2 linked regions of the Homo sapiens genome follow. The protein of the gene in region 2 interacts with the protein of the main gene of each other region in a pairwise test. Each region holds a gene or a part of one and is shown on either strand. Other genes may lie near its edges.

Region 1 (3,829 bases), on a different chromosome or scaffold from region 2:
CCTGCTGCCTAATTTTTAAAATAAACTTTTTAGTAGGACAAATCCATAGTCATTCATTGACATATTGCCTTTGGCTATTTTGTGCCATGACAGAGTTGAATAATTACAATGAAGACCATATGGCCAAAAAAGTCTAGAATATTTACTGCTTGGCCCTCTACAATATGCTAACTCCTCATATAACCCAAATCAGTAACAGCAAGAATGTCTCATAGTCCTGGACTTCTTTCTGTGTCTAATCACTTACTAATAATGGCTTGCTTCTAAGTGTTTATTTGTATTTTTAAGTAATTCTGCATTTATTCTTTTATTTAATTCTCAGAGTATTGGTAAAATAGGGTATCTTAGCCCATTCAGATTACTACAACAAAATACATTAAGCTGGGTAAATAAACAACAGATATTTATTGCTCACAGTTCTGGAGGCTGTGAAGTCCAAGATCAAGGCACTGGCAGATTGAGTGTATGGTAAGGGCTTGCTGTCTGCTCCATAGATGGCATCTTGCTGCTGCATCCTCACATGATGGAAGGGGCAAGGGAGCTCTCTCAGGCCCCTTTTATAAAAGTACTAATTCCATTCAAGAGGTTGGAGTGAACATATTTGGTTCCTTTTAGGTGCCAACATATGAATTTGGGTGGGGGACACCAACGTTTAGACCACAGCAGTCAATAGGGCTTATTTCCATGAGCCAAACTGCAAAAGAGATAAGGGAAAATGAAAACTTAAATCTTTATTCATTTTTCAATAATAAACTCAAGGATCAGCTCCTGTAAGAAGACTTTCCCAATCCCTCTAGGAAAAAAAATTATCACCCCACTTACTTTTAAAATCTCAATTATATTTTGGAGAGGTATCATTCAAGCATCTATAATACTTTATTGCACTTTTTGTTAACTTGTTTTTTCTCATCTAATAGCTTGTAAGCTCTTTAAGTCTAGGGACTTATTAAATTTAACATCCATTGAGTGCCAGTTTGTGCCAGGCATGTGCTAAGTCCATAAATACAATGATCAATAAGATACATCTTGCCTTCAAGATAAATCTAGTGTAATAAAGGGGATAAATAAGTGAAGAAATTATCAATATATAAATTAAGATGTACTATAAAAAGGGAGATATTATCTAATCCAGTTTAGTGTCCTAGGGAAGATATCTTAGAAGAACTGACATCTTCCATGAAGGAAGACTAGAAGTATCCAAGACAAGCAGAGAGGGTCATTCCAGGTTAAATTGCAAGCAAGTGTTAAAGCACTTCTGTGTTTGGGGAACTAAATACATAGGAAGAAGAAGGGTGGAGTGGCAAAAAACTAAATTGGAGAAGTGAAATGGGACCAGATGATGAAGGGTCTTTTATGACATGTTGAAAATATTGGATTTGGTCTTTAAAACTATGGGAAGTTCTTAAAAACTATACTGAAGAAGTATAAGAAGGACAATTATGTGATCAGATTTACACTGTAGAAAAGGGGCTATGACAATGGTATGGAGTGGATCAGAAAAAGATCGATCATACAGTAGCCAAGTGAGAAATAGTGAGGAACTTAATCAAGGTAGTCATGTGTAAACAGAGAAAAAGGGACAAATTTTAAAGATATGAAGGACCTAGGAATAATAGGACTTATATTGGAAGTGAAAAAGGAATCATGGCTGACCTTTAGGTCTCTGTCTTGGGCAACTGAGTAGATAGATGTTTACATTAACTACAAAGGGAGAATGTGTTTGAAGGATGGGGAGTGAGAAAATGAGAAGTGTCATTGTGGATATGTTGAATTGTAGGTGTTTGTGGGAAATTCAAATGGAAATGAACAGTTGGACATATCAGTCTGAAACTCAGAAGACTTATCTGTGTGGAAATAAAGATCTTGGTGTAGTCTACATTCATTTAACAAAGGTTCATTGAGTGCCCCCATGTATGTGCCAGGCATTATTTTAGTCCCATAAAGTTGAATCTTTCAAATTCAGTCATTGGATGGATAAAACAAGGAGACTATAAAGACTATGGACAGAACCCTGTGGAATACCAGCATTTTGGAGGACCGAGATAACTGGATTTTCAAAGTTAGAAAAAAAAGAAAAATTCACAGGCAGGTATAGAACCAGGGAGAAAAAAAAAAAAAAAACAGCTTCCCGACTCTGGAAGCACTGGCAAATTAATATACTGAAATACTTATACCTAGAGTAAGAGTTGAAAGAGGTGGGAGACTAGGAAGTAGAGGACAGAGTGTAGAAAATTGGGATATAAGAGCTCAGAGACCATAGCTTATTCATTGTCCCTCTCTCCCTCATTCTTTCAATTCTATTTACCAAGCTCTCTACTGTGTACCAGCACTATGCTAGGTGCAAAATACGTGATGGTTAGCAAAATAGAGTCCTGGTTTGGCTAGCAAAACAGATTCCTGGTCCTCATCAGAATGTATGGTATAATAGAGAAAACAATAAGCACGTAAACAAACAGTATTTACGTAATGTATATACTACGAAAAAACCAAACACGGCTCTATGATACAGAAAAATATAGGACCTATTTAGAAAGGCCTGATATTTGAGAATTGAAGAGGTGCAAAGAGGGAAAAATTTATCAAGCATTTATTAATATATACTCTGCTCCTATAATATTTTTGGTGCATATGGATAATTTTTCAATGAGTAATAAATGAAATAGCAAGGAAATTGATATAATTATTTTCTATTATCCAATCACTACAAAATGTAAAGAGATAGATATAAACTTTGAAAGACATCATAAATGAACATTTTATAAAATATAAAAGTTGTCCACTTGCCTACTTTTAATTTCAAGGGTAATTATCAATTTTTGCTTTTTATCGAAACGAAGCCAAGCTTAGCAAATTATGTTAAAAATGCAGATATAATTTAATATAGCAAAATTATCATAAGAATTGATTTTCCTTTTTGTGGTTTTGTAACATTAGAATGGTTTTATTCCAACATTCCCATTCCTTCTATTAGCTATTGTTTGATTTTTTTAGAGGGGCATTTACTCTTATAATCCTCTTTCAGCACAGCCTTGTGTTTCAGTTTAGCCAAGTGCTTCTTAAAGTAAGTTATCTTGAATACCACTCTCATGAAGTGCTCCACCTAAAAATTAAATAAAAATAAGTTTTTAATAATTAAGTAAATCTGAAAAATATGTAGTATATGATATCCCCCTCTTTAAAAATGACATTATACACTATTGTTTAAAGGTTTTTGCAAAGGCCTATAGGAGAGAAAGTTCTAGTATGTCAAAATTCTGTTTTCTCAACCTAATCAATTACACAACCCTTTTAAAAAAAAAGATTATGTACCTAAATGTATTTCAAAGTATTCTTTAAGAAATACTGCTGCAAATGGTTGCTTAAAGTTCTAGGTCCTTTACTAATCTCTGAATGGTGTTGACTGAAAATTGCTTAAAATATTAAGTCTCATTTGAGGGTATTTGTTTTACAATTTTATTATTATTATTTTTTAAGATGAAGTCTCACTCTGTCGCCCAGGCTAGAGTGCAATGGCACGATCTCGGCTCACTGCAACTCCGCCTCCTGGGTTCAAGCAATTCTTCTGTCTCAGCCTCCAGAGTAGCTGGGATTGCAGTCATGCACCATTACACCTGGCTAGTATTTTGTATTTTTGGTAGAGATAGGGTTTCACTATGTTGGCCAGGATGGCCTCGAACTCCTGACCTCAAGTGATCCACCTGCTTTGGCCTCCCAAAATGCTGGGATTACAGGTATCAGCCACCATGCCTGGCCTTATAAAAAGTAATTTTGAAAGTAAAATCATTCAATATATAAAGGTGTGACTGCAGTTACAGCATAATGGGTCATG
Region 2 (3,540 bases):
ACAGAATTAATCACCTCTTCCTAAACCCTAATGCACACTTGAGTCTCTACAAGACCACAGGCACATCAAGGAGAGCATGTCTTTAACCCCTAGTACACATTCATAAACACATACTCTTCCTTTGCCTCAGCTTCCCAGTAAGGTCCTTGGTGAGTAAAATGTGCTTAGTCCCAGTTACTCTATATTGATAGAAGACAGCATCATGCCTTACACTCAACTCTTAGACCAGACTAAATACACATAGAACATAATATGAATTCCAAAGGCTGGTATTCACAGAACACCATAATCTGGACATAGTTCTTATTCCTAAATACTAAACCTTATACTCTGTTTATACCAAATTACTTATACACTTGGTATTTTTCTGCCTATTACAAGTCCTTTTTGTTTTCCAGTACTTTGTGTCTGATTTACCTAACTGCTAAGCCCCAGAAGAAAATTTAAACACTCAATTTTGGCTGGGCGGGGTGGCTCATGCCTGTAATCCCAGCACTCTGGGAGGCCAAGATGGGTGGATCACGAGGTCAGCAGTTCGAGACCATCCTTGCTAACACGGTGAAACCCCATGTCCACTGAAAATACAAAATATTAGCTGGGCGTGGTGGTGGGTGCCTGTAATCCCAGTTACTCGGGGGGCTGAGGCAGGAGAATGACATGAACCTGGGAGGCGGAGCTTGCAGTGCTCCGAGATCACGCCACTGCACTCCAACCTGGGTGACAGAGTGCGACTCCGTCTCAAAAAAAAAAAAAAACCCAATTTTGTTTTCATGCTGTGGATGCAATGGACACCTAATTCTAATGAATAAAACTACTGATAGCTAATATATAAAAGCATAGAAGACACTTTTATTATATAACATTTTATTTAAAAAAATTATTTTCATAGAATACATTTTCACATTAGAGATTCCCATTGTGCGAAAATAACAATTTATTACTTATAGTTTTATATTTGTGGACAGATTGTTTTAGAACAAGTAGAATACATTTGGGAATTAAATCTCAATTTACAGTTGGTAGTATTTTGATACATCTACAGGGAAACTTGCCCTTAAATGGAACTTCTGTATATTCAGAAGCACTCCAAGCGTTTCTTCCTAGGATTTAGAAATTTATAATATGAGCTATCAGCATTTCCTAATTTTAAAATTTCCCTAGTATATGTAACCATCAGTAGGTGGTATCTACTGTCTAGAGAGGGAAGTTTTCGAAAATTAAACACTGTCTAATTTTCTGCAAAGTTTTTATTCATGAATTAAGAGTATTTCCCTTTGTCCATTATTCCCAAGGCAAATATGGAAGTTTGATCATATACTAATCGTAATAAAGTTGGATTCTCTTTAAGAGATTGATAAATTGAAAGGCAAAAGCTGATATATCATGTTTAGTTATACTGTGAGTCTTATAAGAAGCTGGGAGGCAACCCCATTAACTCACCAGAATATAGAACTCAGTCTCACAACTTAGATATAATTCCTCTCAAACCTTTTCCTCAAAGATTAAATTCTGAAAATAATCTTGTGATTAAGAGAAGAAGGCTGTCCACCAATGGACTTATCTGTTATTTCTTCCTTATTGTGAGCTTAATGGCATGACAAAGCAGAGGCAAAGAGGCATACATCAATTCTTCAAAGTATGAAGTCAAAAAGGTCAGAGCTTCCACAGCATGGCAACAGCTTTGCAGATGCCCACATCGTGATAGTTGAAATAGCAAAGCCCAGCAAAGGTTAAAGCTGAAAGTGCCAAAAGCCCTGCCTTGGCAGCTTTCTGCAAGGCATCCCCATGAACATAGTCAGTAACAACTTGTCCAAGGCCCCTAAAGAAAAAGAAAAAATCATAACATCAATAAAAAACCACAGTGAAATTAGAAGACTATACAGATAACTTGGCTGCAAAAAAACAATCTGTCAAGTTCAAATGCAATGTCTCCATTTGCCACTCCACTGTCACTGTTTGCTTCTTTAGGGGATTCTGTATAGCCTTTTGCGTGTGTATGTCAGTAAGTCTATTTCTAGTGACTTTTCTTTAGAGACAAAGTCTTACTCTGTTGCCCACGCTGGAGTGCAGTGGCCTGATCATAGCTCACTACAGCCTCGAACTCCTGAGCTCAAGTGATCCTCCTGCCTCAGCCTCCCAAGTAGCTGGGACTATAGGAGCATGCCTCCATGCCCGGCTAATTGTTTTTTATTTCCTTCTATTTATTTATTTATTTATTTATTTATTGAGACAGAGTCTCGCTCTTTTGCCCAGGCTGGAGTGCAGTGGCACGATCTCGGCTCACTACAACCTCCGCCTCCCGGGTTCAAGTGATTCTCCTGCCCCAGCCTCCCAAGTAGCTGGGACTACAGGCGCCCACCACCACACCCAGCTAATTTTTGTATTTTTAGTAGAGACAGGGTTTCACCATATTGGCCAGGCTGGTCTCGAACTCCTGACCTTGTGATCCGCCCACCTCAGCCTCCCAAAGTGTTGGGACTACAGGCGTGAGCTACTGCGCCTGGCCTGTTTTTTATTTCTTTAAAGATGCGGTCTCACCATGATGCCCAGGCTGGTCTTGAACTCTTGGCTGCAAGTGATCCTTTCACCCCAATAACTAAAAATAACTAAAACTCTACAGTATTTTTAATTAATTCAAAAAGAATTTATTAAGTAGATATCATGTGCCAGAATCTGTCATAAATGTTGGGAGTATAGTAAGTGAGACAGCATCCCTACCCTTATGGAATATACTAGTGAATGAGAAGGAAAAAGTAAATATATATGTACTGAGAAGAAACACTTTAGAAAGGAAGACATGAATGAGAACATCCAAACCAAAGTGGCATCTCTAATGAATAGTAAGATTTGTGTGGCTGGAGCACATGGGTGAAGCAGAGATCAGAGGAAGGCAGGGGTCGGTTGCATAGGGTCTTGAAGGTCATGATAAGGAATCTGAATTTTATATGAAATATAATAGGAAACCACTGATACATTTTAAGCAGGGAGTGCCTGAGATTAGGAGTGACCTAATTTTACTATTTTTATAACAGTTTTATTGCAATGTAAGTCAAACGCCAGAAAAAATTCACGCTTTTTAGTATATAATCCACTGGTTTTTAGTATATTGAGTTGTGCAATCATCATTTAATTCCAGAACATTCTCATTACCCCAAAAAGAAACCCTCTACCTCTTAGCCCACTACCCAACTACAAATTTACTTTCTGTCTCTATGGCTTTGCCTGTTCTAGACATTTCATATAAAAGAACCCATACACCACTGGGCGTGGTGGCTCACACCTGTAATCCCAGCACTTTGGGTGGGTGAAGTGGGCGGATCACCTGATGTTGGGAGTTCAAGACCAGCCTGACCAACAAGGAGAAACCCCATCTCTACAAAAAATACAAAATTAGCCAGGCGTGGTGGCACATGCCTGTAATGCCAGCTACTTGGGAGGCTGAGGCAGGAGAATCGCTTGAACCCGAAAGGCGGAGGTTGCAGTAAGCTGAGATCGTGCTGAGCCGAGATCGTGCCGAGCCAAGATCGCACCATTGCACTC

The links.
Region 1: the proteins of SDHD (region 2) and SLC13A1 interact in a protein complementation assay, tested with the Homo sapiens proteins (one large-scale study listed by BioGRID).

The regions. Positions count from the first base shown.
Region 1 is NC_000007.14:123,172,263-123,176,091, reverse strand, and holds part of SLC13A1 (solute carrier family 13 member 1), read left to right. Parts: intron 1-3,829. UniProt on the Homo sapiens protein: Sodium:sulfate symporter that mediates sulfate reabsorption in the kidney and small intestine. Can also mediate the transport of selenate and thiosulfate.
Region 2 is NC_000011.10:112,093,084-112,096,623, reverse strand, and holds the end of SDHD (succinate dehydrogenase [ubiquinone] cytochrome b small subunit, mitochondrial isoform a precursor), read right to left. Parts: coding exon of another isoform or gene 3,427-3,540; exon of another isoform or gene 3,415-3,426; intron 1,820-3,414; coding exon 1,654-1,819; 3' UTR 830-1,653; downstream 1-829. UniProt on the Homo sapiens protein: Membrane-anchoring subunit of succinate dehydrogenase (SDH) that is involved in complex II of the mitochondrial electron transport chain and is responsible for transferring electrons from succinate to ubiquinone (coenzyme Q).